Linked DNA regions of Homo sapiens: regions 2, 3, 4 and 5 are each linked to region 1. Evidence: fine-mapped expression QTL. A gene starts in region 1. Each other region holds a variant in brackets. All regions are shown on one strand. Distances are between the middles of the regions. Region 1 holds the start of PPP2R3C (protein phosphatase 2 regulatory subunit B''gamma). Region 2 overlaps PRORP (protein only RNase P catalytic subunit). Region 3 overlaps PRORP (protein only RNase P catalytic subunit). Region 4 overlaps PRORP (protein only RNase P catalytic subunit). Region 5 has its middle 29 kb from the start of PSMA6.

What was found. PIP is the estimated chance that this variant, and not a neighbour inherited with it, causes the effect.
Region 2: its variant is fine-mapped to the expression of PPP2R3C in whole blood (INTERVAL, PIP above 0.99).
Region 3: its variant is fine-mapped to the expression of PPP2R3C in lymphoblastoid cells (GTEx, PIP above 0.99).
Region 4: its variant is fine-mapped to the expression of PPP2R3C in monocytes after Pam3CSK4 (Quach 2016, PIP 0.95).
Region 5: its variant is fine-mapped to the expression of PPP2R3C in whole blood (INTERVAL, PIP 0.92).

The regions. Positions count from the first base shown.
Region 1 is chr14:35,119,143-35,124,246 of GRCh38, forward strand. It overlaps PPP2R3C (protein phosphatase 2 regulatory subunit B''gamma), which reads right to left and starts at 2,848. Exons shown (of 13, transcript NM_017917.4): 1 at 2,760-2,848. The coding sequence starts at 2,817. PRORP (protein only RNase P catalytic subunit) reads left to right here and starts at 3,410. Exons shown (of 8, transcript NM_014672.4): 1 at 3,410-3,493; 2 at 3,810-5,089. The coding sequence starts at 4,104. PRORP-PSMA6 (PRORP-PSMA6 readthrough) reads left to right here and starts at 2,697. Exons shown (of 15, transcript NR_182666.1): 1 at 2,697-2,910; 2 at 3,810-5,089. RefSeq lists enhancers at 2,052-3,251, 2,471-3,390, 2,634-2,763, 3,304-3,383, 3,391-4,310 and 1 more.
Region 2 is chr14:35,147,579-35,152,682 of GRCh38, forward strand. All of the region lies in intron 4 of PRORP (protein only RNase P catalytic subunit), which reads left to right. The region is part of intron 4 of PRORP-PSMA6 (PRORP-PSMA6 readthrough); the gene reads left to right. Among named protein-coding and RNA genes, the nearest start is that of PRORP, 28 kb to the left of the region's middle. The variant A/G (reference allele first, on the strand shown) is at 3,032.
Region 3 is chr14:35,235,811-35,240,914 of GRCh38, forward strand. All of the region lies in intron 5 of PRORP (protein only RNase P catalytic subunit), which reads left to right. The region is part of intron 5 of PRORP-PSMA6 (PRORP-PSMA6 readthrough); the gene reads left to right. Among named protein-coding and RNA genes, the nearest start is that of PSMA6, 54 kb to the right of the region's middle. The variant C/T (reference allele first, on the strand shown) is at 1,941.
Region 4 is chr14:35,212,811-35,217,914 of GRCh38, forward strand. All of the region lies in intron 5 of PRORP (protein only RNase P catalytic subunit), which reads left to right. All of the region lies in intron 5 of PRORP-PSMA6 (PRORP-PSMA6 readthrough), which reads left to right. Among named protein-coding and RNA genes, the nearest start is that of PSMA6, 77 kb to the right of the region's middle. The variant T/C (reference allele first, on the strand shown) is at 1,989.
Region 5 is chr14:35,319,110-35,324,213 of GRCh38, forward strand. No RefSeq gene overlaps it. Among named protein-coding and RNA genes, the nearest start is that of PSMA6, 29 kb to the left of the region's middle. The variant T/G (reference allele first, on the strand shown) is at 2,152.

The sequences.
Region 1 (5,104 bases):
TTCTCCCGCTTCAGCCTCCCAAGTAGCTGGGATTACAGGTGTGCACCACTGCGCCCAGCTACTTTTTGTATTTTTAGTAGAGACGGACTTTCACCATGTTGGCCAGGCTGGTCTTGAACTCCTGACCTCAAGTGATCTGCCTACCTCGGCCTCCCGAAGTGTTGGGATTACAGGTGTAAGCCACAGTGCCCAGCCCAAATGAATTTTTTTTAAGACAGGGTCTGGCTCTTGTCACCCAGGCTGCAGTATAGTGTCATGATCATAGCTCACTGCAGCCCCAAACTCCTAGACTGAAACAACCCTCCCTGCTTCAGCCTCTCGAGTAGCTAGGACTACAGTGGTGCACAACCACCCGGGCTAATTTTTTACTTTCTATTTTTGTAGAAACGGTGTTTCACTATGTTGCCCAGGCTGGTCTCAAACTCCTGGCCTCAAGCGATCTTCCCATCTCGGCCTCCCAAAGTGCTGGGGTTACATGAATGAGCCACCGAGCCTCCCAACACCACTACCCCCGACCACCCACCTTTTAAAAAGATGGGTGATATTAACAGCACGTTTGTGCTGGTGTAAATGATCCAGCAGAAGGAAAATCTGATGATGTAGGAAAGAAAGGAGGAGGCTGGAAGGAAGTCAGTGAATACAGGGAAAAGAATGCAATCTAGTGGTGGACTGGAGGGACTCTTAAATAGGAGCATGGACAGTTCATCTTTTTTTTTTTTTTTTTTTGAGACGGAGTCTCGCTCTGTCGCCCAGGCTGGAGTGCAGTGGCACAATCTCCGGCTCACTACAACCTCCGCCTCCCGGGTTCACGCCATTCTCCTGCCTCAGCCTCCTGAGTAGCTGGGACTACAGGCGCCCGCCACCGCACCCGTCTAATTTTTTGTATTTTTAGTAGAGACGGGGTTTCACTGCGGTCTCAGTCTCCTGACCTCGTGATCCGCCCGCCTCGGCCTCCCAAAGTGCTGGGATTACAGGCTTGAGCCACCGCGCCCGGCATCAGTTCATCATTTTAACAGTGAAGCCAGAGTGTATGGGCAACTAACTGTGGGGTTGTGGGGCTGAAAGAAATGTTAAGGGGGACAGGTGATGTTCTCCTCTGACTGCTTCTCCTTTTTTTTTGAGACTGAGTGTCGCTCGGTCGCCCAGGCCGGAGTGCAGTGGCACAATCTCGGGCTCACTGCAAGCTCCGCCTCTCGGGTTGAAGGTATTCTCCTGCCTCAACCTCTGGAGTAGCTGGGACTATAGGCGCCCGCCACCACTACCGGGTAATTTTTTTGTATTTTTAGTAGAGACGGGGTTTCACCGTGTTAGCCAGGATGGTCTCGATCTGCTGACCTCGTGATCCGCCCGCCTCGGCCTCCCAAAGTGCTGGGATTACAGGACTGAGCGACCGCGCCCGGCCGACTGCTTCTCCTTTCTTAATGAGATATATATTAAAATACAAGTTCATCAGCTTAAAGTAAGAAGCGGGTAGGACAGACTGCAGGTGTAGGAGATGAGAAGAATAGTGTAAAAGAGTGTTGCCTGGGTGCGGCGGCTCACGTCTGTAATAGCAACACTTTGGGAGGTGGAGGTAGGAAGACTGCCTGAGGCCAGGAATTCGAGACCAGCCCAGGCAACATAGCAAGACCTCATCTCCACTAAAAATAAAAAATTAGCCGGGTGTGGTGGCGTGTGCCTGTACTTCTAGCTGCTCAAGAGGCTGGGGTGGGAAGATCCCTTGAGCCCAGGAAATCGAGGTTGCAGCAATACTTCACTGCGCCGCTGCACTCCAGCCTGGGCAACACAGGGAGATCCTGTATCGGAAAAAAAAAAGTGTATTTAGGAAAACACAGATTGGCAGTTTGGGAGATGAAAATTGAATGTAGGAGAATGAACGTCCAGGAAAACACGGTAGACATGACCAAAACACCTTCTTTAGATTAGTGGACTTGTATTAAAAGTGAGATAACTCGGCGGGGCGCGGTGACTCACGTCTGTAATTCCAGCACTTTGGGAGGCCGAGGTGGGCGAATCACAAGGTCAGGAGTTTGAGACCAGCCTGGCCAATATGGCGAAACCCCGTCTCTACTAGAAATACAAAAATTAACCGGCCGTGGTTGCGCGCGCTTATAGTTCCAGCTACTCCAGAGGCTGAGGCAGAAGAACCGCTTGAACCCGGGAGGCAGAGGTTGCAGTGAGCGGAGATGCTGCCACTGCACTCCAGCCAGCCTGGGCGACAGAGCAAGAGACTCCGTCTCAAAAAAAAAAGTGAGACAACTCACCAAGGTTCTGTTTTTCTCCAGCCACTTTCAACAGCCCTTAGTGCGGGTGTGGAATAGGAAAGGTAGATTTAACGAGGTTAGTTAATAAGCAATGTGAAGGAGAAAAATAAAAGGAAAAATGGATTATGAAATATAAAATGGATTACGAGGGAAGCAAAAAGCGTGACAGTAAAAAGGCAGGAGGACAATTATAGGTCCTGGTGGGGTTCAGGCGTTGTTGGAGCCGGGGTTCCAAGTTATTCTTCACAAGTTTAGATTAAGACCATGGAAGTCAGTGACTAAAGCTAAGTTTTTCGTTCCTCTAGATTCTGCCCCAGGAAAGTTTGGGTCAAACCTATCGGGATCCTTAAACCACATTCCACTCCGCCTCCTTTGTCGGGAGGTTTCACAGAAGCGGAAAAGGCGGCTCCCCCTTGCTCCTCCTCCCCACCTCCCCCCTACCTCTAGGAGTTTAGGGCCGGGCCATCCCAACGGGCTGCCCCTCCCAAAACTCACTGTTTGGACAGGTGTTGGGCGTCGCTAGGCGCCGACGAAGAACTTCTTTCCAGTCCATGGCCGACTTCCGCGCAGCAGCTTCTGCATTTGCTGTTTCCTACCTGCTCCACCCCTACCAGCTCAGGCGTCAGCACCGCCAGGCCCCGTAAAGGTTAGGAAGGCCGTCCAACCACCATCTTGATCGAGGGCGGAAGTCTTGGCTAAAGAGGCAAAAACAATTACTGTCACTGCCGCGGAGAATACCGCTACCACGCTGACTGGGGGAAAAAACTATGAAAGAGATGGAAAATGGTTCTCCTTCAGAGGCGACCCAAGCTCACCAAGCCGGATTTTAAAGGCCACGATAAGCCCGCGTTTTCCTTTATCGTGTGCCTTTGGCGCGTGCGCACCACGTGACCCAGGAGTTCATTAGTTCCGGCTTGAGGGAAGCGCCTTCTTTCACAATTTCTTTTCATTGTTCATTGCGGATATCTGGAAGCCTTCCAGGTCCCCTGAATGTAGTAGACACTTCAGCAGCCGTCTCCTACCCCTTTTGCCACTAAATGCTTCAAAACTGCCTTTTTTCCTCGCCGCCGGGCCAGGCGGAACGCCTAAGTCCGGGTCAGTCTCGTCCGTCGGTCGGGGCTGGCGCGGTGCATCGTGGGCACTGTAGTTTCCGCCGCGTTTATGGCCGCGTTAAGTCTGAGTGCCGCTTTGAGTTGTTGAATGAAGTGAACTTCATTTGTCAGCGTTCGGTACGCAGTCTAGGCAGCGCCCTTCCTGTACCTCTCTTCCTTTCCTGAGTCGTTGGCGCAGCTGACTCGCCACCTCCTCCCTCCTCGTCCCCCCACCGGAGGAGTTTTGCGGTCTGTAGAGAGCTATGCAGGGTGAGGGCCCCTAGACTTCGGCTTTCGCCGCTGTTGGTGGTAGGCTGGAGTTGGGGGTCCCTGGATACGGTTTTGGCTTTACACCCCCTTTCCAGCAAGCTTCCCGTGGGAATCTGTTCCTTTTCAGGACAGCTGTGATCCACGTGAGTAAAACTGGGCGTTCCGTCTTGTGCTTTTTCCTCAGGTTCATGAACTGGAATGTAAGAGGCACCAGAGGATTCCTGCTCTGTCCCCTGGTTTGCGGCTTGCGACGTTGGACATCCCCGGATTGTTGTTTAATAGAGAAAACTCACCTGCCTTCTTGCTTTTAAGTAGCCCCAAAAGCAGAACCTTGATTTGTCTGTAAGGAAGAAACACAAACCTTTTAAAAAGTTCCACTTCGACTCTGCACCGCCGACCCCCAATCTCTTTAATTTTGCCATAGAAGAGGGGTTTTTTCAACATCTCTCTCACTATCTGGTGCTGATCTCACTGCATAATGACTTTCTATTTGTTTGGTATTCGAAGCTTTCCGAAGCTTTGGAAGAGCCCATACCTTGGGCTAGGCCCAGGGCACTCTTATGTCTCGCTGTTTCTGGCAGACCGCTGTGGCATCAGGAACCAGCAGAGGTTGTTTTCTCTTAAAACAATGTCTCCACAGAATACCAAAGCAACGAATCTGATTGCCAAGGCCAGATATCTCAGGAAAGATGAGGGCAGTAATAAGCAAGTTTATTCTGTTCCTCATTTTTTTTTAGCTGGAGCAGCTAAGGAGAGATCACAGATGAATTCTCAAACTGAAGATCATGCCTTGGCACCTGTGAGGAACACTATTCAACTCCCAACACAACCTTTGAATTCAGAGGAGTGGGATAAACTTAAGGAAGATTTAAAAGAAAACACCGGAAAGACCAGTTTCGAAAGTTGGATCATTTCACAGATGGCTGGCTGTCATAGCTCTATAGATGTGGCTAAATCTCTGCTGGCATGGGTAGCAGCCAAAAATAATGGTATTGTAAGTTACGATTTACTGGTCAAGTATTTGTATCTCTGTGTCTTTCATATGCAGACATCTGAAGTTATTGATGTCTTTGAAATTATGAAAGCCAGATATAAGACTTTAGAACCTAGAGGTTACAGTCTTCTCATCCGGGGATTGATCCATTCAGACAGATGGAGAGAAGCATTGTTGCTGTTAGAGGACATCAAAAAAGTTATAACTCCTTCAAAAAAGAACTATAATGACTGTATCCAGGGAGCTCTCCTTCATCAAGATGTAAACACAGCTTGGAATTTATATCAGGAATTGCTAGGTCATGATATTGTTCCTATGTTGGAAACTTTAAAAGCTTTCTTTGATTTTGGAAAAGACATAAAGGATGATAACTATTCAAATAAACTACTAGATATTCTTTCATATCTAAGAAATAATCAGCTGTATCCAGGGGAGTCATTTGCACACAGTATAAAAACATGGTTTGAGAGGTAATTTTGGTTTTT
Region 2 (5,104 bases), 28 kb after region 1:
AAACGATCCACCCACCTCAGCCTCCCAACATGCTGGGATTACAGGCATGAGCCACTGTGTGGCAATTTCTTAAAATAAGACAATAATGAAGTTTGCCACATAAATTGACTCTTCTTATCACAAAATATTTTTCTGCAGCATGCAGTGCTTTTTGAAAGCATTTTACCACATTAGAACTTTTTTCAAAATTGGAGTCAATCCTCTGAAATCCTGCTGCTGCCTTGTCAACTAAGTTTACGTAATATTCTAAATTCTTTGTTATCATTTTAACAATATTTACAACGTGTCTACTAGGAGTGAGTTTTATTTCAAGAAACCACTTTCTTTGCTAATCCATAAGAAGAAATTCCTAATCCAAGTTTTATTTTGTGATTGAAGCAATTCAGTCACATCTTCAGGCTCCACTTCTAATTCTAGTTCTCTTGCTATTTCCACCATATCTGCAGTTCCTTCTTCCACTGAAATTTTGAATCCCTCCGAGTCATCCATGAGGGTTGGTGTCAACTTCTTCCAAACCTGTTACTGTTGATATTTCAACCTCTTTCCATGAATCACAAATGTTCTTAGTGGCATGTAGATCGGTGAATCCTTTCCAGAAAGTTTTCCGTTGACTTTGCCCAAATCCTTCAGAGCAATCACTGTCTATGACAGCTATAGCCTTACAAAACATGTTTTTCAAATAATAAGACTAGAAAGTCGAATTTACTCTTTTATCCATGGGCTTTAGAATGGATGTTGTGTTGGTAGACATGAAAACAACTTTCATCTCCTTATACATCTCCATAAGAGCTCTTGGGTGACTAAGTGCATTGTCACTGAGCAATAATATTTTGAAGAGTCTTTTTTTTGGAGCAGTAGGTCTCCACAGTGGGCTTGAAATATTCAGTAAACCATGCTGTAGACAGATGTGCTGTTAGCCAGGCTTTGTTCCATTGATAGAGCATAGGCAGAGGAGATTCAGCATAATTGTTAAGGACTCTAAGATTTTTGGAATGGTAAACGGGCATTGACTTCAATAAAGTCACCAGCTGTATTAGCCCATAACAAGAGAGTCAGCCTGTCCCTTGAAGTTTTGAAGTCAAGCATTGACTTCTCTCTAGCTATGAAAATTCTAGATGGCATCTTCTTCCAATAGAAGGGGCTGTTTTGTCTCCACGGAAAATCTGTTGCTTAGTGTAGCCACCTTCATCAGTGATCTTAGATCTTCTGGATAGCTTGCTGCAGCTTCTACATGAGTACTTGCTGCTTCACCTTGCACTTTTTTTGTTTTTTGTGTTGGTTCCACCAGTCTGTGCCCATAACCTCCCAGCAGCCTACATGTTGCACTTTTTAATTTTTTTTTTTTTTTTTTTTTTTTTGAGACGGAGTCTCGCTCTGTGGCCCAGGTGGGAGTGCAGTGGCGCAATCTCGGCTCACTGCAAGCTCCGCCTCCCAGGTTCACGCCATTCTCCTGCCTCAGCCTCCCGAGTAGCTGGGACAACAGGCGCCCGCCACCACGCCCGGCTAATTTTTTTGTATTTTTAGTAGAGATGGGGTTTCACCGTGTTAGCCAGGATGGTCTCGATCTCCTGACCTCGTGATCCGCCCGCCTCGGCCTCCCAAAGTGCTGGGATTACAAGCGTGAGCCACCGCGCCCGGCCTAATTTTTTTTTTTAATACAGTGTCTCATTCTGTCATCCAGGCTGGAGTGTGGTGCTATGATCATAGTCCACTGGGGCCTCGAACTCCTGTGCTCAAGTAATCCTCCCATCTAGGCCTCCCAAGTAGCTAGGACTACAGGCATACCACCATACCTGGATCATTTTTAAATTTTTTGTAGAGATAGGATCTTGCTATGTTGCCCAGACTGGTCTCGAACGCCTGACCTCAAGTGATCCTCTTGCTTCAGCCTCCCAAAGTACTGTGATTACAGGTGTGAGCAACCATGACTGGCACCTTGCATTTTTATGTTATGGGGATTGCTTATTTTCTTAAACCTCTTGAGCCAAATTCTGCTGGCCTCCAACTTTTCTTCTACGGCTTCATCACCTCTGTCAGCCTTTGTGGAATTGAAGCATTCAGGTCTTGCTTTGGCTTAAGAGAATGTTGTGGCTGGTTTGATGTTTCATCCAGACCACCAAAACTTTCTTCATATCAGCAATAAGGCTATTTTGCTTTCTTATCATTTATTTGTTCACTGAAGTAGCACTTCTGATTTCTTTCGAGAACTTTGCATTTGCAAAGTTTGGTACCTAGCTTTTGGCCTATCTTAGCTTTTTTGTTTTGTTTTGTTTTGTTTTTTAAGGCGGGGAGACAGAGTCTCACTCTATCACCCAGGCTGGAGTGCAGCGGCATAATCTCAGTTCACTGCAACCTCTGCCTCCCAGGTTCAGTTGAGCAATCCTCATGCCTCAGCCTCCCGAGTAGCTGGGGATTACAGGCATGTGTCACCACACCGGCTAATTTTTAGTAGAGATGGGGTGTCGCCATGTTTCCCAGGCTGGTCTGGAACTTCTGGCCTCAAGTGATCCGCCTGCCTCGGCCTCCCAAAATGTTGGGATTACAGGCGTGAGCCACCATGCCCAGCCCTGTCTTAGCTTTTGACATGCCTTCCTCACTAAGCTCAGTGATTTCAAGCTTTTGATTTAAAGTGTAAGACCGGAGACTCTTCCTTTCACTTGAACACCTAGAGGCCATCGTAGAATTATTAATTGGCCTAATTTCAGTATTGTTGTGTCTCAGGTAATAGGGAGGCCTGAACAGAGGGAGAAAGATGGGGAAATGGCTGTTGGTGGAGCAATCAGAAGTCACACAACATTTATTGATTAAGTTTACTGTCTTACAGCAGCACGGTTTCTGGTGCCCTAAAACAATTACCATTCAGGTATGTCGGTGCAAGAATTCTGGCCAAAAATGTAAAGCTTCTAGAAAAATCAATGAATTCAGAATTTTAGGAAGGTTAAAAAGTTAAAAGGACAAGCAGGTCACTCCTAGCAGTGGCCTTCCCAATGTCAAATGTTTTCCTTATTTCTTCATTCTTTTTCTTTTATGT[A/G]ACACTTGACTGAAATTCTACCAGCTGGGATCCAGGCTTTTTTATGAGATTTAGCTTGAAGCAGTGTACTTTCCTCCTAAAGCCTAGCTGAGTTTGGCTTTACAAGGAAATGAAAATTATGTGTGGCTATGGGTGTTTGGCTGCTGCTGTTTTAGAGTTGGGTTGGTGATTTTTCATAGAGAACGTTTTGAGGGGCTGATCTGAGGGGGGTGCTCAAATGGAAAGTTTTGTGTGGAGTAGTGTGCTAGAGACAGAGGGATAAAGTCACCTTTAGGAGGTTGAAACAAGGTGGGAGTGTGCAAAGGAGATACTTGACTTTTCTTGTGCTAAGGGCAAGAGAGTCTTATCTTTCTTACAGCGAGTGATCTTTTCTCTCTCAGATTCAGGTTGGCATTATTACTGTTATACTATAACCCATTGCATCATTTGGCTTGGAAACCAAGCCATTTTTAAATTAATTTTTATTTATGGGAAAAGTGTTGTGAGTTCTTTATAATCATCTACTAAGTGAATTTTTAGAAACAGTATTTGGAAGTGAGGTACGTCCCAGAGTGATACACTTTTAGTGTTATTTTTCTTAAAAGATTCTGCCTAGGATTTTTGATTTAGTTTTTCTATAGCTATTGCTTAAATGTATCGATTTTATTGCTTTTTCATTTGGTCTTCTTAGAGAATAGAATAATGTAAATAAGATACTAGATTAGAAACAGTAATACTGGTGCTGAAGACAGACAGCTTACTTCTGAAGGAAGAGAAAACTACCAGTGTGAAAGAGCAGCAGCTGAGATGTTGAGAATAAGGCCTCTGATCACCACTGAACCAAACTCCCGATCTTTATACACATGTATAGTCTTCCCTATCTCAGTAAATACAACTTTTTCCTTCTAGCTATTCAGGTCAAAAAGGTCAGAATCATCCTTGATTCCCCTCTTTCCTTCATATCCCCATTCTAATCTGCCAGCACTCCCTATTTTCCATCTCTGCTTTATTTTTCTCCATAGCACTTATCTGACATGCTACACACACACATACACACACACACACACACACACACACACACACACACACAGAGCTTTTACTATATATCTTTTCTCTGTATAGAGTGAAAGCACCACAAGGGTAGGGATTTTTAAATGCCTGTTTAGAACACTGTTGTATCCTCATAACTCAGAATAGTGCTTTACATAAAGATGCTCAATTTGTTGAATAAATGAATAATAGTTACCATTTACTGAATTCTTAGTGTCAGGCTAAGATCTTTGTGCTAGGATCTTTGTATCAGTTATCTCTAATTTTTTTTCTTCTTTTTTTTTTGTTAATCCATCTTTTTTTTTTTTTTTTTATTGATCATTCTTGGGTGTTTCTCGCAGAGGGGGATTTGGCAGGGTCATAGGACAATAGTGGAGGGAAGGTCAGCAGATAAACAAGTGAACAAAGGTCTCCGGTTTTCCTAGGCAGAGGACCCTGCGGCCCTCCGCAGTGTCTGTGTCCCTGGGTACTTGAGATTAGGGAGTGGTGATGACTCTCAACGAGCATGCTGCCTTCAAGCATCTGTTTAACAAAGCACATCTTGCACCGCCCTTAATCCATTCAACCCTGAGTGGACACAGCACATGTTTCAGAGAGCACAGGGTTGGGGATAAGGTCATAGATCAACAGCATCCCAAGGCAGAAGAATTTTTCTTAGTACAGAACAAAATGAAGTCTCCCATGTCTGCTTCTTTCTACACAGACACAGCAACAATCTGATTTCTCTATCTTTTCCCCACCTTTCCCCCTTTTCTATTCCACAAAACCGCCATCATCATCATGGCCCGTTCTCAATGAGCTGTTGGGTACACCTCCCAGACGGGATGGTGGCCGGGCAGAGGGGCTCCTCACTTCCCAGAAGGGGCGGCCAGGCAGAGGTGCCTCCCACCTCCCGGATGGGGCAGCGGCCGGGTGGAGGCGCCCCCCACCTCCCTCCCGGACGGGGCGGCTGGCCGGGCGGGGGCTGACCCCCCCACCTCCGCCTCCCTCCCAGACAGGGCGGCTGCCTGGCGGAGACGCTCCTCACTTCCCAGACGGGGCGGC
Region 3 (5,104 bases), 120 kb after region 1:
ATCCCAGCATTTTGGGAGGCCGAGGTGGTGGATTGCTTGAGCTCAGGATTTTGAGACCAGCCTGGGCAAGGTGACAAAACCCATCTCTACCAAAAAAACAAACAAAAAAACACCACAAAAAACAGAAAACAAAAAATTAGCCAGGCAGAGTGATACACACATATAGTCCCAGCTACTGGGGAGGCTGAGGTGGGAGGACATCTTGAGCCCAGGAGGCGGAGGTTGCATTGAGCCGAGATTGTGCCACTGCACTCCAACCTGGGCAACACAGCAAGACCCCATCTCCAAAAAAAAAAAAAAAAAAAAAAGCATAAGGAAACTAAGACCCAGAAAAGGTTAAGTAACTTGTCTCATAGCTAGTAAATGGCAAAGTAACAGGATTAGACATGTCTCATTCCAAATTCCTTGTTCTTTCCCGTGTAACACACTGTTCTTTATATTTTAACCTACTGATCTATTTATCTGTTTTCTTGAAATACCATGGTAGACTCTTTGAGACATGCTTTTCTGATTCTCTTGGATCTCCATTGCTTTAATCACTAACTCATAAATAGCTAGCTTGCTCTAGTTTCTGTCCTCCTCATCTAAACCTCTCAAAAGACTGGTATACAATTCTTTTCTTGCTACCCATTTGCTCCCTAACCCCTAAGCCCACTGAAGTCTGGCTTAGTCTCCATCATTGCATTGAAAATGCTCTCCCTCAGGACAGCAGTAACTTCCTAATTGCCAGTTTTGATGAACATATTTTAGTCTTTATCACTCTTTTTCTGCATTTAATACTTTATAGATTCCTTTCTTCTTGAAATTGTCTATGTCTTTGAATTCTGTGACTTCACATTCTTATCCTTCTCATTACACTCTCTGACCATTCCTTGTTCTCTCTTGTTTTTGAACTTCCCTTCCTTCTCTTACTCCTTAAATGTTGGTGTTCTCTGATGTTCTATCTCTGCATCTTTACCTTAGACAGGTACTTGAAACTAAATACTGTATGTCCAAAACTGAACTTGCCATCTTCCTGCCAGACATCTACACCAATAGGTGGTACCAAATGTTCACCAAGTCTTGCCAATTTTACCTCCTAATTATTTCTCTCTCTCTCTCATCTTCTTTCTTTCTCTCTCTTTCTCCTTCTTTCTTTCATTTTTCTTTTCTTTCTTTTCTTTCCTTTCTTCCTCCCTCCCTCCTTCCCTCCTTCACTCCTTCCTTCCCTCCTTCTCTTCCTTCCTTCTCTTCCTTCCTTTCCTTCCCTTCCTTCCTTTCCTTCCTTCCTTCCTTCTCTCTCTCTCTCTCTTTCTCTCTCTCGACAGAGTCTTGCTCTGTCACCCAGGCTACAGTGCAGTGGCGCCATCACAGCTCACTGCAGCCTTGACCTCCTAGGCTGAAATGATCCTCCTGCCTCTGCATCCTGAGTAGCTGGGACCACAGACGTGCGCCACCACATCCAACTAATTTTTAAATTTTTCGTAGAGACAAAGTCTCCCTATGTTGCCCAGGCGGATCTCAAACTCCCAGACTCAAGCGATCCTCCCACCTAGACCTCCCAAAGTGCTGGGGTTACAGGCATCAACCACTATGCCCAGCTCTGTTTCTCAAATCCATTCTTTTCTCTTCTTCTTTTACCATATCTTTCTCATCAGATCCTTGTTAGTACCTGCTTAAATCCCTATCATAGCCTCCTAACTGGTTTCTCATCTTCAGTTTTGTTTCTTTCAAATCTATCCTCTTCCACAGGCAAAAATGACCATGTAACTTAAATCAATTTACAGTTAATGTTTTGACTAGGGAGATATCTGAATATATTAAAATATTTATAGTTCCCCTTTCCAATTTTGCCTTTTCACCTTCTTAAACTTCTATTTTTTATTTGAGACAGCGTCTTGCTCTGTTGCCCAGACTGGAGTACAGTGGTGCTATCTCGGCTCACTGCAACCTCTGCCTCC[C/T]GGGTACAAGAGATTCTCCTGCCTCAGCCTCCGCTGGGACTACAGGCGTATGCCACCAAGCCCGGCTAATTTTTTTTGTATTTCTAGTAGAGACGGGGTTTCACTGTGTTAGCCAGGATGGTCTTGATCTCCTGACCTTGTGCTCCACCCACCTCGGCCTCCCAAAGTGCTGGGATTACAGGCATGAGCCACCGTGCCTGGCCTTAAATTTTTAAATTAGATATAATATCTGTTCATTAAGTCAAACAAACAAAACTCTAAATACAGTGCACATAGCCATTCTAAGTTAACACATCTTTTTTTTTTTTCTCTGCGTTTTATGTGAAGGGCCAGAAACCAAACACTGTATTAAAGGTGGGCACTGTGCTTAAACAATCCTATGAAGAAATTAGATTCTCATTTTACAAATGAGAAAACTGAGGTGCAATTAAGTCACTTCCCTGAATCGTTAATAAAAGTAACAGATTCAGAATTGAAATGCCAATCTGACACCAAAGTCTGTGGTCTTTTACCGTGCCGCACTATCATGCCCTGTGGTATGCATTTGTAATTCCCAAACCCACATATCTAGACCGCCCCTCACTGGGTAGTTCTCTGGATTTGTTTACACCTGTAGGTTTGGACAGCCTACCAATGCCAGAAATTAGGATTTGGAGGATGAGTATGTATAGGAAAATGACACAAAGAAAGCCAGGTTGTAGGAAAGTTAACCTGGCAATGTCACAGGAGAAACAGCATTGAAAGACCAACCAAAAGACCTAATGACATCTTGAACTAAAGTGATGACAGTGGAATCTAAAAAAGAGGAAAAGAATGTGCTTAAAGGAATGAAAGTCTAGGACTTTGGGAAAAATATGTCAACTCTGTTGTCATTAAACCTCTTAATTCTCTTAAAATCTTAACCTTTTTAAGATTAAGATTCATTAAGTGAAACAAACAAAACTCTTTAAATACAGTGCACATAGCCATTCTAAGTTAACACGTCTTTTTTTCTCTGCATTTTATCTGAAGGGCCAGAAACCAAATACTCTTATTAAAGCTGGACACTGTGCTTAAGCAGTCCTATGAAGTAAGGCATATCAAAGCTTTTTTAAGGCATCACAAGGCTATATATAAATGTATGACATTGTGCTTTTACAGCCTAACAATAACAACACGTAGTCTTTTACAGCTTATAGAGTCCTTTCATTAATATTAAGTGATTTGATCCTCACACATCCCTATGGACTAAGTGTTGTATTTTTCTTACTTTACATATAAGGAAACTGGCTTAAAAGGCTGTGACTTGCCCAGAGGTAACAGCTCTCAAAACACTACACTAGGCCAGGTGTGGTGGTGGCTCACGGCTATAATCCTAGCACTTTAGGAGGCGAGGCGGGCGGATCTCTTGAGGTCAGGAGTTCAAAACCAGCCTGGCCAACATGGTGAAACCCCGTCTCTACTAAAAATACAAAAAAATTAGCCAGGTGTGGTGGCAGGTGCCTGTAATCCCAGCGACTTGGGAGGCTGAGGCAGGAAAACCCAGAGGCGGAGGTTGCAATGAGCCAAGATTGCAACACCGCACTCCAGCCTGGGTGACAGAGTAAGACTCCGTCTCAAGAAAAAAAAAAAAAAAACAAACTACACTAAATCCACTTCCTATGCTTTCTCCAGAGATGTCTGCTTCCCTAAAAACAAACAATATTTTTTCAAAGTACATGATCAAGGTGGAGCCCCTTTTCTCCTCAGCATTTGAATACCAGCTTATAATTAAGAGTTTATTAGATCAGGCAACGAGCTGGTGAAGAACAAGAACAGACTACTGTATAGTGTTCATAAAATTAGATGGCTGGTCTAAATTTTAGAAACAAGATTCTCGTGACCTTTGACAGGTTACATGTACATGACACATTGTTTCTTTGGCATTTCAGACGTTGCCTGCAAGCATTCTGTGAATGAAGCCATACCAGTGTCATGCCAAATCATGAACTGTCCTGCCCTGTACAACTAAAGAAAACCAAGGGTCTTCTGCTCTGGCCTCTATAGAATAAATTAGAAAAGTTGGCTGGGCACGGTGCCCCATGCTTGTAATCCCAGCACTTTGGGAGGCAGAGGCGGGCAGATCACCTGCGGTCAAGAGTTTGAGACCAGCCTGGCCAACATGGTGAAACCTTGTCTCTACTAAAAATACAAAAATTAGCCAGGCGTGGTGGCGTGCGCCTGTAGTCCCAGCTACTCAGGAGGCTGAGACAGGAAAATCGCTTGAACCTGGAAGGCGGAGGTTGCAGTGAGTGGAGATCATGCCACTGCACTCCAACCTGGGTGACAGAGTAAGACTCCATCTCAAAAAAAAAAAAAAAAGAAGAAGAAATTAGAAAAGATGTTGAAGAGCTTAGTAGGAATGTTGTACTGATTGGAATTAGAGTTGGTGGTTCATCAATCATTTCACTACCACCAAAGTTATGCCAGTTTCCTTGCATTCTGCATATACACATTTTTATTTTAGCATTCTTTAAAAATACTGTGGTTCCTGCTTCCTGGGCAGTGGTCAACTTTTAAACCATCTTTTTTTTTTTTTTTTTTTGGTTTAAAATTTACCCGGGTGGGTTTTCTTGATCTTTGTTTGTTTACGCCCATCCATAGCTACATGTGTATGCACACATGCAGGTAGTTACAGCCATTTCCAAGGCAACCAATTGTGTTTTGAGACAGCAAATAATTTCAGGGACAGCTGTGGTGCCTCCCACCTTCTTTTGCTGGTGTCACTTTTCCTATGCTGTATTAGCTATACAGGTGAAAAGAACCAACATTTAGTTCAAGTAAACATCCTTGGACTAGCATGTAGGATCACACTGGATCTCCTCATTTTTTTATTCTACAACATATCAGAAGTTCATAGCAGTTTTCTGGCTATTAGATTGTTCTTAAAATTTAATATCTTCACCTATTGAGTTACCCAAGCCAGCAATCACAGTGATTTCTACCTCCTTGTTCCTCCTCCTCCACATTGATTAAATCAACAAATTCTGCTGAAATTGCCTCCTCAATTAGTCCCTCTGGCCCTGCATTATCCAATATGGTAGCTACTAGCCAGTGGGTCTGTTGAGCACTTGAAATGTGGCTGACCAAATTGAGATGTGCTGTGTGAAATAGCCCTCCATATTTGTGGGTTCCCCTCGCCCGTG
Region 4 (5,104 bases), 94 kb after region 1:
GAAGCTTTGAAGCCAGGCATTGACTTCTCTTCTCTAGTTATGAAAGTCCTAGATGGCATCTTCTAATAGAAGGCTTTTTTGTCTCCATTGCCAATCTGTTGTTTAGTATAGCCACCTTTATCAATGATCTTAGCTAGGTCTTCGGAATAACTCACTGCAGCTTCTCCATCAGCACTTGCTACTTCGTCTTACACTTTTATGTCATGGAGATGCCTACTTTCTTTAAACCTCATGAGCCAACCTCTGCCAACTTCCAGCTTTTCTTCTGCAGCTTTCTTGCCTCTCTCAAACTTCATAGAATTGAAGAGAGTTTAGGGCCTTGCTCTGGATTACGTTTTGGTGTAAGGGCATGTTGTGGCTGGTTTTGTCTTCTACCCAGGCCACAAAAACTTCATCTCAGCAATAGGCTGTTTTGCTTTCTTTATCGTTTGCGTGTTCACTGGCATAACACTTTAAATTTCCTTCAAGAACTTTTCCTGGTTGGGCACGGTGGCTCATTCCTATAGTCCTAGCTTGGAAAGCTGGTGGGAGGATCACTTCAGCCCAGGAGTTCAAGGCTGCAGTGAGCTGTGATTGCACAACTGCACTCCAGTCTGCAGAGTGAGATCCTGTCTCCTTAAAAAAAATAAAATAAAAATAAAGGAAAAAAACCTTTTTCTTTGCATACACAACTTGGGTAACTGGCACAAAAGGCCTAGCTTTTGACCTGTCTTGGCTTTCAACATGCCCTCCTCACTAATCATCTGTAGATTTTTATTTAAGGTAGGAAATGTGCAACTCTTCCTTTCACTTTTGAACACTTAGTGGTCATCACAGGGTTAATTGGCCTAATTTTGATATTATTATGTCTTGGGGAAAGGGAAGAGAGGGAGAGAGATGGAAGAACAGCTGATGGGTGGAGCAGTCAGAACACACACAACATTTATCGATTAGATTCTCCATCTTACGTGAGTGTGGTTCATGGCACCCCAAAACAATTACAGTAGTAACATCCAAGATCACAGATCACTATGACAGATATAATAATAATGAAAAATTGGAAATATTGTGAGAAGTACCAAAATGTGACATAAAGACAAGAAGTGCTGTTGGAAAAATGGTACTAATAGACTTGCTAAACACAGGACTGCCACCAATCTTCAATTTGTAAAAAATGAATATCTGTAAAGTAATGTGCAATAAAATAATGTATACCTGTATCATATTCCCTGTGCATCTGCTTAGTACACTTTAAAGACTGTTAATGGTGATGATGATAAAAGCCACACATTCTTTATTCATCACTTGTCAGAATGTTCATTTGTTTATTTTAGTGAGTCATCCTTCAAATAAGAGGAAAACAGCATGTTCTTTCAAAGAATACTGTCTGGGAAGCAAGGGTACTTCTCAGATCTAGGAGCAGGAGAATGAGAAAAGCTGAAATGACAAGCCCTGTATTATTTTTGAAGAAGAGTTGTATTTTTTATGGGTAGCCATTTGTAAACCAGCCTAAATAATGAAATTGTAGGAGTTTAGAATAATATCCCAGTACATTAGGTCAATTATGTGGTCAGAAGCCCCAAACAAATATTGAGTGTATTCTCATATTACGATTTTGTTTTCTGAAGTTAAATGGAATGATTTATATGCTTATCTTCTGTTGCATCTTAAAAAGATGTATTATTAGTAGACAAATGCAGAGGTTGTGTGGTTATATAAGTTATCTATTACTCTGACTTCTTAAGCAGCAGGGCAAGAATGGACATGTTTTTCTAAAATAAGACTTTTCTCCATCTTACATGGGTGTGGTTCCTGGCACCCCAAAACAAAGCTGGGGCCGGGTGTGGTGGCTCACGCCTATAATCTCAACACTTTGTGAGGCTGAGGTGGGTGGATCATCTGAGGCCAGGAGTTCGAGACCAGCCTGGCCAACATGGCGAAACTGCATCTCTACTAAAAATACAAAAATTATCTGGGTGTGGTGGTGCACACCTGTAATCCCAGCTACT[T/C]GGGTGGCTGAGGCAAGAGAATCGCTTGAACCCAGGAGGCAGAGGTTTCAGTGAGCCGAGATCGTGCCACTGCACTCCAGCCTGGGCGACAGAGCGAGACTCCCATCTCAAAACAAAACAAAGGTGGGTGTCTTGAGTGCCTTTTGAGTATAGGCCTTCAGACTTTCTGAGGATTGGGAAAGCATTTTTTTTTAACCTTAAAATATTTATTGAATAAAGAATGGCAAGATCAGAAAAATAAGCTCTGGTTAGGATTTGATGTGGGGCTTCATTCTCAGCTCTGTTGCTACCTCCTTTTATGATCTTCGGTGGTCTCTTTTCCTGTTCAAACCCCAGTTTCCTTATTTATAAGGAGATAATGAGGAGACCAGACTTAATATTCTCTAAAGATTCTTTCAGCTCTAAAAACTTAATGATTCAAGCAGGTTGCCTGTGAAGAACAATGCATTTCTTCCAAAAGAGGGTGCTGTGGTATTTCTCAGTACTTTAGCATCTTCTTGAAAGGAACTGAACAATGGTAGAATCTCAGCTTAATTTTGTGTCTTCAGACTCCCAACCTTTGAGAAATAGTGTCTAATTCCTTCCTTTATTTAGATGAGGCGATATAAACCAATTCCTGATGTTACTGACACTTAAGTAAGTTTCAAAGAAAAAAATAAAAAATACACATAATTTTACCAGGCAAATATAGACAGTTTTGTCAGATGTGGTGGCTCCCAGCACTGCAGGAGGATCACTTGAGGCTGGTAATTTGAAACCAGCCTAAGCAACAAAGTGACCGTGACTCAAAAAAAAAAATTAAAAATTATCTGGGAATGGTGGCGTCTGCCTATAGTCCTAGCTGTTTTGTTGGCTTGGAGGCGGAAGGATTGCTTGAGCCCAGGAATTCCAGGTTTCAGTGAGCTATGATTGAGCAATTATTTCACCACTGCACTCCAGCCCAGGTGACAGAGTAAGACTCTATCTCTCTTTTTTTTTTTCTTGGGGGGACAGGGTCTCACCCTGTCGCCCAGACTAGAATGCAGTGGCATGATCTCGGCTCACCACAGCCTCCACCTCCTGGGTTCAAGCAATTCTCCTGCCTCAGCCTCCTGAGTAGTTTGGATTACAGGTGCCCACCACCACGCCTGGCTAATTTTTGTATTTTTAGTAGAGACCGGGTTTCACCACGTTGGCCAGCCTGGTCTTGAACTCCTGACCTCAAATGATCCACCTGCCTCGGCCTCCCAAAGTGCTGGGATTATAGGCATGAGCCACCGCACCCAACCGTAAGACTCTAGCTTTAAATATAAATTACATATATGTATATATTTATATTTATATATAATATATAATATATTTATATAATACATTTATATTAGAGAGAGAGAAGGAGAGAGAGAGATAGTTTTAACATTTTGATGTATTTTCACTCTTATTCAACTTCTTCCCATAAAATTGAGAAAATATATAAATTATGTGTGCGTGTGTGTCATTTTATTTGTTTTTGTCTTTTTCCTTTCTGGGTTTTTTTTGTTGTTGTTGTTGTTTTGACAAGGTCTTGTTCTGTTGCCCAGGCTGGAATAGAGTGGCATGATCACAGCCCACTGCATTCTCAACCTCCTGGGCTCAAGCAATCCTCCCGCCTCAGCCCCCAAGTAGCTGGGACCAGAGGCACGTGCCACCACACCTGGCTAATTTTTTTATTTTTAGTAGAGATGAGGTCTCACTAGGTTGTCCACACTGGTATATCACATTTTATTTATCCATTCATCAGTTGAGTTGTTCCTACTTTTTGGCTATCATGAATAATACTACTGTATGAACATTTTTGTGCCTGTTTTTGTGTTGACATGTGTTTTTATTTCTCTTTAGTATATATGTAGGAGTAGAATTGTCAGTTCATATAGTAATTCTTCTATTAGGTTTTTGAGAAACTGTCAGACTTTTTTCTCCAAAGGGCTGTACCATTCTACATTCTCACCAGCAGTATATAAAGGATCTAATTTCTCCATATCCTTGCTAGCACTTGTTGTTAACTGTCTTTTTTATTATAGTCGTACTAATAGGTGTGAAGTGGTATCGTAAGTGATTTTTGACTCGTGTTTCTCTGATGGCTAATGATGTTGAGCATCTTTTAATATGCTTATTAGCCATTTGTGTATAGTCTATGGAGAAATGTCCATTCAGATCCTTTGCCTATTTTAAAATTGGATTGATTTTCTTTTATTATTGAATTGTAAGAGTTCTTTATGCATTTTGGATATTAGGTCCTTCTCAGATATATATTTGCAAAATTTTCCCCCCATTCTGTTTTTGGCTTCACTTTCTTGAAGATGACTTTTGAAGCACAAAAGTTTTTAATTGTGATGATGTCCAATCTATTTTTTTTCTTTCATAACTTGTCTTTTTGGTTTTGTACCTTAAGAAACCATTGTCTAGGGTGGGCGCAGTGGCTCACGCCTGTAATCCCAGCACTTTGGGAGGCCAAGGTGGGCAGATCACCTGAGGTCAGGAGTTCTAGACCAGCCTTGCCAACATGGTGAAACCCCATCTCTACTGAAAATACAAAAATTAACCTGGCGTGGTGGCAGGCACCTGTAATCCCAGCTATTTGGGAGGCTAAGGCAGGAGAATCACTTGAACCTGGGAGGCAAAGGTTGAAGTGAACCAAGATTGTGTCACTGCACTCCGGCCTGGGTGACAGAGCAAGACTCTGTCTCAAAAAAAAAAAAAAAAAGAAAAGAAACCATTGTTTAATCCAAAGTAACAATGATTTACATCTTTTTTTCTAGGAGTTTTATAGTTTTACATTTAGGTTTTTTTTCTCTTTGAGTTGATTTTTGTACTTGGTATGAGTCCAACTTCACTTTTTGGTATATGGATATCTAGTTGTCCTGGCACTATTTGTTGAAAAGACTATTTTTCTCCTACTTGAATTATCTTGGTACCCTTCTTAAAAATGAATTCACCATAAATGTGAAGGTTTATTTCTGGACTCTCAATTTTATTCCATTGATCTGTTTGTCTGTCTTTATGCCAGTACCACACAGTCTTAATTAGTGTAGCTTTCTAGCAAGTTTTGAAGTCAGAAAGTGTGGGCCCTCCAATTTTGTTCCTTTTCTAAGTTGTTTTGG
Region 5 (5,104 bases), 200 kb after region 1:
CACACCTGTAACCCCAACACTTCGGGAGGCTTAGCCGGGCAGATCACTTGAGCTCAGGAGTTCAAGACCAGCCTGGGCAACAAGGTGAAACCCTGTCTCTACCAAAAATATAAAAACTTAGCATGCACATCTGTGGTCCCAGCTACTTAGGACACTGAGGAGGGAGAATTGCTTGAGCTCGGGGGATAGAGGTTGCAGTAAGCAGAGATTGTGCCACTGCACTCCAGCCTGGGTGACAGAAATGCCATCTTAAAAAAAAAAAAAAAAGCCAGAAATGTAAACTAGCTATATGGTATAATTAAATAACAAACTACAACTTTGGTTTTGAAACCCACTCTGGCCGGGCGCTGTGGCTCACACCTATAATCCCAGCACTTTGGGAGGCTGAAGTGAGAGGATTGCTTGAGGCCGGGAGTTTGTGATGAGCCTGGACTACATAGCAAGACCTCGTCTCTACAAAAAATTTTTAATTAGCTGGGCATGGTAGCCTGCACCTGTAGTCCCAGCTACTCAGGAGGCTAAGGCAAGAGGATCACTTGAGCCCAGGAGTCTGATGCTGCAGTGAGTTGTGATTGTGCCACTGCACTTAAGCTTGGGTGACAGAGTAAGACCCGGTCTCCAAAAAGAAATCCACCCTGACCGTAAGTTGGCATGTGAGGAAAGGCCTTTATTTTACAATTTCTCATTCAAACAAGATACTACTGAATGTGGACTCCAAGTCCCACTGAATGCTTTAACTATAATAAAAGGATTAGTATGATCTTCCATAGTTTTGAGAAAAGCATTTATACTCATTAAGAACCAGTATTTTCAAGGGTAGAAATTTTAGTTACCTTCAGGAAACAGGGCTAGAAAAGTCATAGAATGTGTGTAGTTTCTGTGCCTCCTTAATAATAAGTACTTGAAGATAACATTAAGGAATTGGTTTATATTAAAGTTTAGAGACCCAGCATCACAATGTTCAGGAAGAAAGAACAAACTGTATATTCATGGTAACTTTTTTTTTTTTTTGAGACAGAGTCTTGCTCTATCGTCCAGGCTAGAGTGCAGTGGCGTGATCTTGGCTCACTGCAACTTCCACCTCCCGGGATCAAGTGACTCTACTGCCTCAGCCTCCTGAGTAGCTGGGATTACAGGCACCTGGCACCATGCCCGGCTAATTATTATTATTATTATTATTATTTTTGTATTTTTAGTAGAGACGGGGTTTCACCATGTTGGCCAGGCTGGTCTCGAACTCCTGACCTCGTGATCCACCTGGCTCGGCCTCCCAAAGTGCTGGGATTACAGCTGTAAGCCACCGCACTCAGCTGTAGCCTATGTTTTTTTTAATGTACAGGATTTTTTAAAGTCCCTAGACTGGTGACCTGAACCACTAATTAGAGATGATTAAAAAATCTTGGAAAGTCTAAGGGTAATACATTTTGTGTCCTCTTTTGCACAGAGGAAGTCTGGTGCTGTTGACCTCATGCAGGTGAGTGTGGCTGCTGGTCTCATGCCAGTCCCTGAAATTAGAGTTGCCCCTGTTTCTGCAGCCACCAGGGCCACACAAGGGGAGGCCACATAAACATATGACCAGTAGAAGCAGGAAACTTCACCAACCACATCCTCTTCAGAGCTGTCAGGAATAGTAAAATTTCCTAACAAGGAAGCAGGGTTCTTCCTTGTTCTTCCAGGTTGTTCTAGGATTACCCATCCTAATCCACTAGGCTCTTTGAAAGTGCTGCCATCGTTTCGAAAGTGGGGTCTATGTAAAAGGGCTAATCCTCTAAAGACAAGCTGAATTTCCACACCCTTAGAGCCTTGACTGATGTCACCCTCCTAGAATCAGTGGATGAGAGACTAGCAACTAATTCAGTTTTACTGTTAGGGGCTCCTTTTCAGAGGTGAAAAACTAAAATTCTGTAATTTGTTAGAAAGTAAGTTTTTACATTATAAGGCAAAATCTAGATGAATTAGGATTAAATATAGAATAGTTTTAAATATTGGTTGTTTATGCTTAATTAAAAGAATGAGAAGAAATAGATCATTTTAAATAGGTGAACATTAGGCTGGGTACAGTAGCTCATGCCTATAGTCCCCAATACACTGGGAGCCCAAGACCAGTGTGGCAACATTTTGTCTCTACAGAAAAATTTAAAATTAGGTCAA[T/G]TGTGGTGGTGCACACACACCTGGAGTCCTAGCTACTTGGGAGGCTTAAGTGGGAGGGTCACTTGAGCCCAGGAATTCAAGGCTGTAGTAAACTATGATCACAACACTGTACTCCAGGCTGGGTGGCAAAGCAAGACCCTTTCTCTAATAATGAAAATAAAAGGGTGGACATTAAATACTCTAATTCTGGCTGGGCGCAGTGGCTCATGCCTGTAATCCCAGCACTTTGGGAGGCTGAGGCAGGCAGATCACCTGAGATCGGGAGTTCAAAAGCAGCCTGACCAACATGGCGAAACCCTGTCTATACTAAAAAAAAATTAGCCGGGCATGGTGGCACATGCCTGTAATCCCAGCTACTCGGGAGGCTGAGGCAGGAGAATCGCTTGAACCTGGGAGGTGGAGGTTGCAGTGAGCCAAGATCATGCCATTGCACCCCAGCCTGGGCAACAAGAGTGAAACTCTGTCTCAATCAATCTGTTTCTTGTTTTGTTTTCTAAACAAACTACCTGGAATGGATAACAAAGGGTTAATGCAGAAAGGTTATACAAAATGCCAAGAAAAATGCCTGAAATCTTTAAATATCTTTACTCAAAGAACATTTTGATTAGTAAGAAATACACATACCAGGCACAGTGGCTCACGCCTGTAATCCCAGCACTTTGGGAGGCCCAGGCAGGCGGATCACTTCAGGTCAGGAGTTCAAGACCAGCCTGGCCAACATGGCGAAACCCAGTATCTACAAAAATACAAAAATTAGCCAGATGTGGTGGCGTGCACCTGTAATTCCAGCTACTCAGGAGGCTGCGGCAGGAGAATCACTTGAACCCGGGAGGCCAAGGTTGCAGTGAGCTGAGATCGGACCACTGTACTCCAGCCTGGGCAACAGAGTGAGACTCCATCTAAAAATCAATCAATAAATATAAGAATACAGATATGAGGCCAAACACAGTGGCTTATGCCTGTAATCCTGGCACTGGGAGGCCAAGGGGGGTGGATCACTTGAGGTCAGAAGCTCGAGACCAGCCTGGCCAACTTGGTAAAACCCCATCTCTACTAAAAAATACAAAAATTAGCTGGGCATGGGGGCGCACACCTGTAGTCCCAGCTACTTAGGGGGCTGAGGCAGGAGAATCGTTTGAACCCGGGAGGCAGAGGTTGCAGTGAGCCGAGATCCCGCCACTGCACTTCAGCCTAGGCAAGAGAGCTAGACTGTCTCAAAAAAAAATACAGATATGATTTTTTAAATATGAGAAATATAATAATTCTGACACTCAGAGGATATGTCCAGACATTCATGAACGTGAAGCTATTTGGGTAGACATGAGGCTTTCCTTCTCTTGATACCTCATTTTTCATAAGCAGTTACTGTACCATTTAGGTTACAAGTCAGCAACAAACCAGGTACTCAGCTCCCTCACTAGCCTCCAAATCCAAGATCCAGATTTGTGACACAACCAAATTATTACATTAAGGATCTTCACGTAGGGGCACACACCTGTAGTCTAGCTACTCAGGAGGCTGAGGTGAGAGGATCACTTGAGCCCAAGAGGTCGAGGCTATAGTAAGCTGTGGTCACGCCACTGCACTCCAGTCTGGGGGACAGAATGAGACACCTGTCTCAAAAAAACAAACAAAAATCTAAAATGACAGCTAAGCTAATTAACATCATAATGGTGAATTAGTTTAAATTTTTTTATTTTTATTTATTTTTATTCTTTGAGACGGAGTCTCCTTCTGTCACCCAGGTTGGAGTGGAGGGGCACGATCTCGGCTCGCTGCAACCTCCGCTCCCAGGTTCAAGTGATTCTCTTGCCTCAGCCTCCTGAGTAGCTGGGATTACAGGCGCGTGCCACCACGCCCAGCTAATTTTTGTATTTTTAATAGAGACGAGGTTTCACCATGTTGGTCAGGCTGGTCTCCAACTCCTAACCTCGTGATCCACCTGCCTCGGCCTCCCAAAGTTCTGGGATTACAGGCGTGAGCCACCACGCCAAGCCTGTTTTATTTTTGTAGAGGCAGGGTCTCGCCATGTTGCCCAGACTGGTGTCCAACTCCTGGGCTCAAGCCATCCTCCTGCCTCAGCTTCCCAGTGTTGGAATTACAGGCGGGATTACAGCCACCATACCTGGCTCCAAGATGGCTTCTAACTCCATTTATTTTACATTCTGGAAATTCCAGCTGATACAATAAGAAATGAAATTAAGAGGTATTGGAATGGAGATAGAATTATAATCTACTATTTAGATTATTTACCTAAAAAAATAAGAAAGTGACCTAATAAAGTATTAGTCTTTATTGGGACAGGCCCTGTTTTAGATACAATATCCTTTAAACTGGTTTAAGTTGAACATTTATAATTTGCTTGTCTACAGTTCCAAAATTCAGGAAGTTCTTAAAACTCAACTGGCTTTTTATATCTCACTTTATTTCTGCAGAAATATGAATGTGCTTAATTATAGGGTGCTGCCCCAGACTCCAGTGGTAGAGTTATGGAATATATGGTTTAGACATCATATTACCACTCTAAAATCCAAAATACATTATATTCCGAACGCATCTGTGCCAGGCGTGGTGGCTCATGCTTATAATCCTCGCTGGGGAGGCCGAGGTGGGCAGATTGCCTGAGCTCAGGAGTTCGAGACCAGCTTGGGTAACATAGCAAAACCCCGTCTCTATTAAAAATACAAAAAAAAATTAGGCGTGGTGGCGCACGCCTGTAGTCCCAGGTACTCGGGAGGCTGAGGCACAAGAATCGCTTGAACCTGGGAGGCAGAGGTTGCAGTGAGCCAAGATTGCACCACTGCACTCCAGCCTGGGCCACAGAGTGAGACTCTGTTTAAAAAGAAAGAAAGAAAGAAAAGAACCTGGCCCCATGCCTTTTGGATAAAGAATAATAGACTTATACTATTATTATTCCCCTGTTGCGGGTAAAAACAAACAAACAAAAACGAAA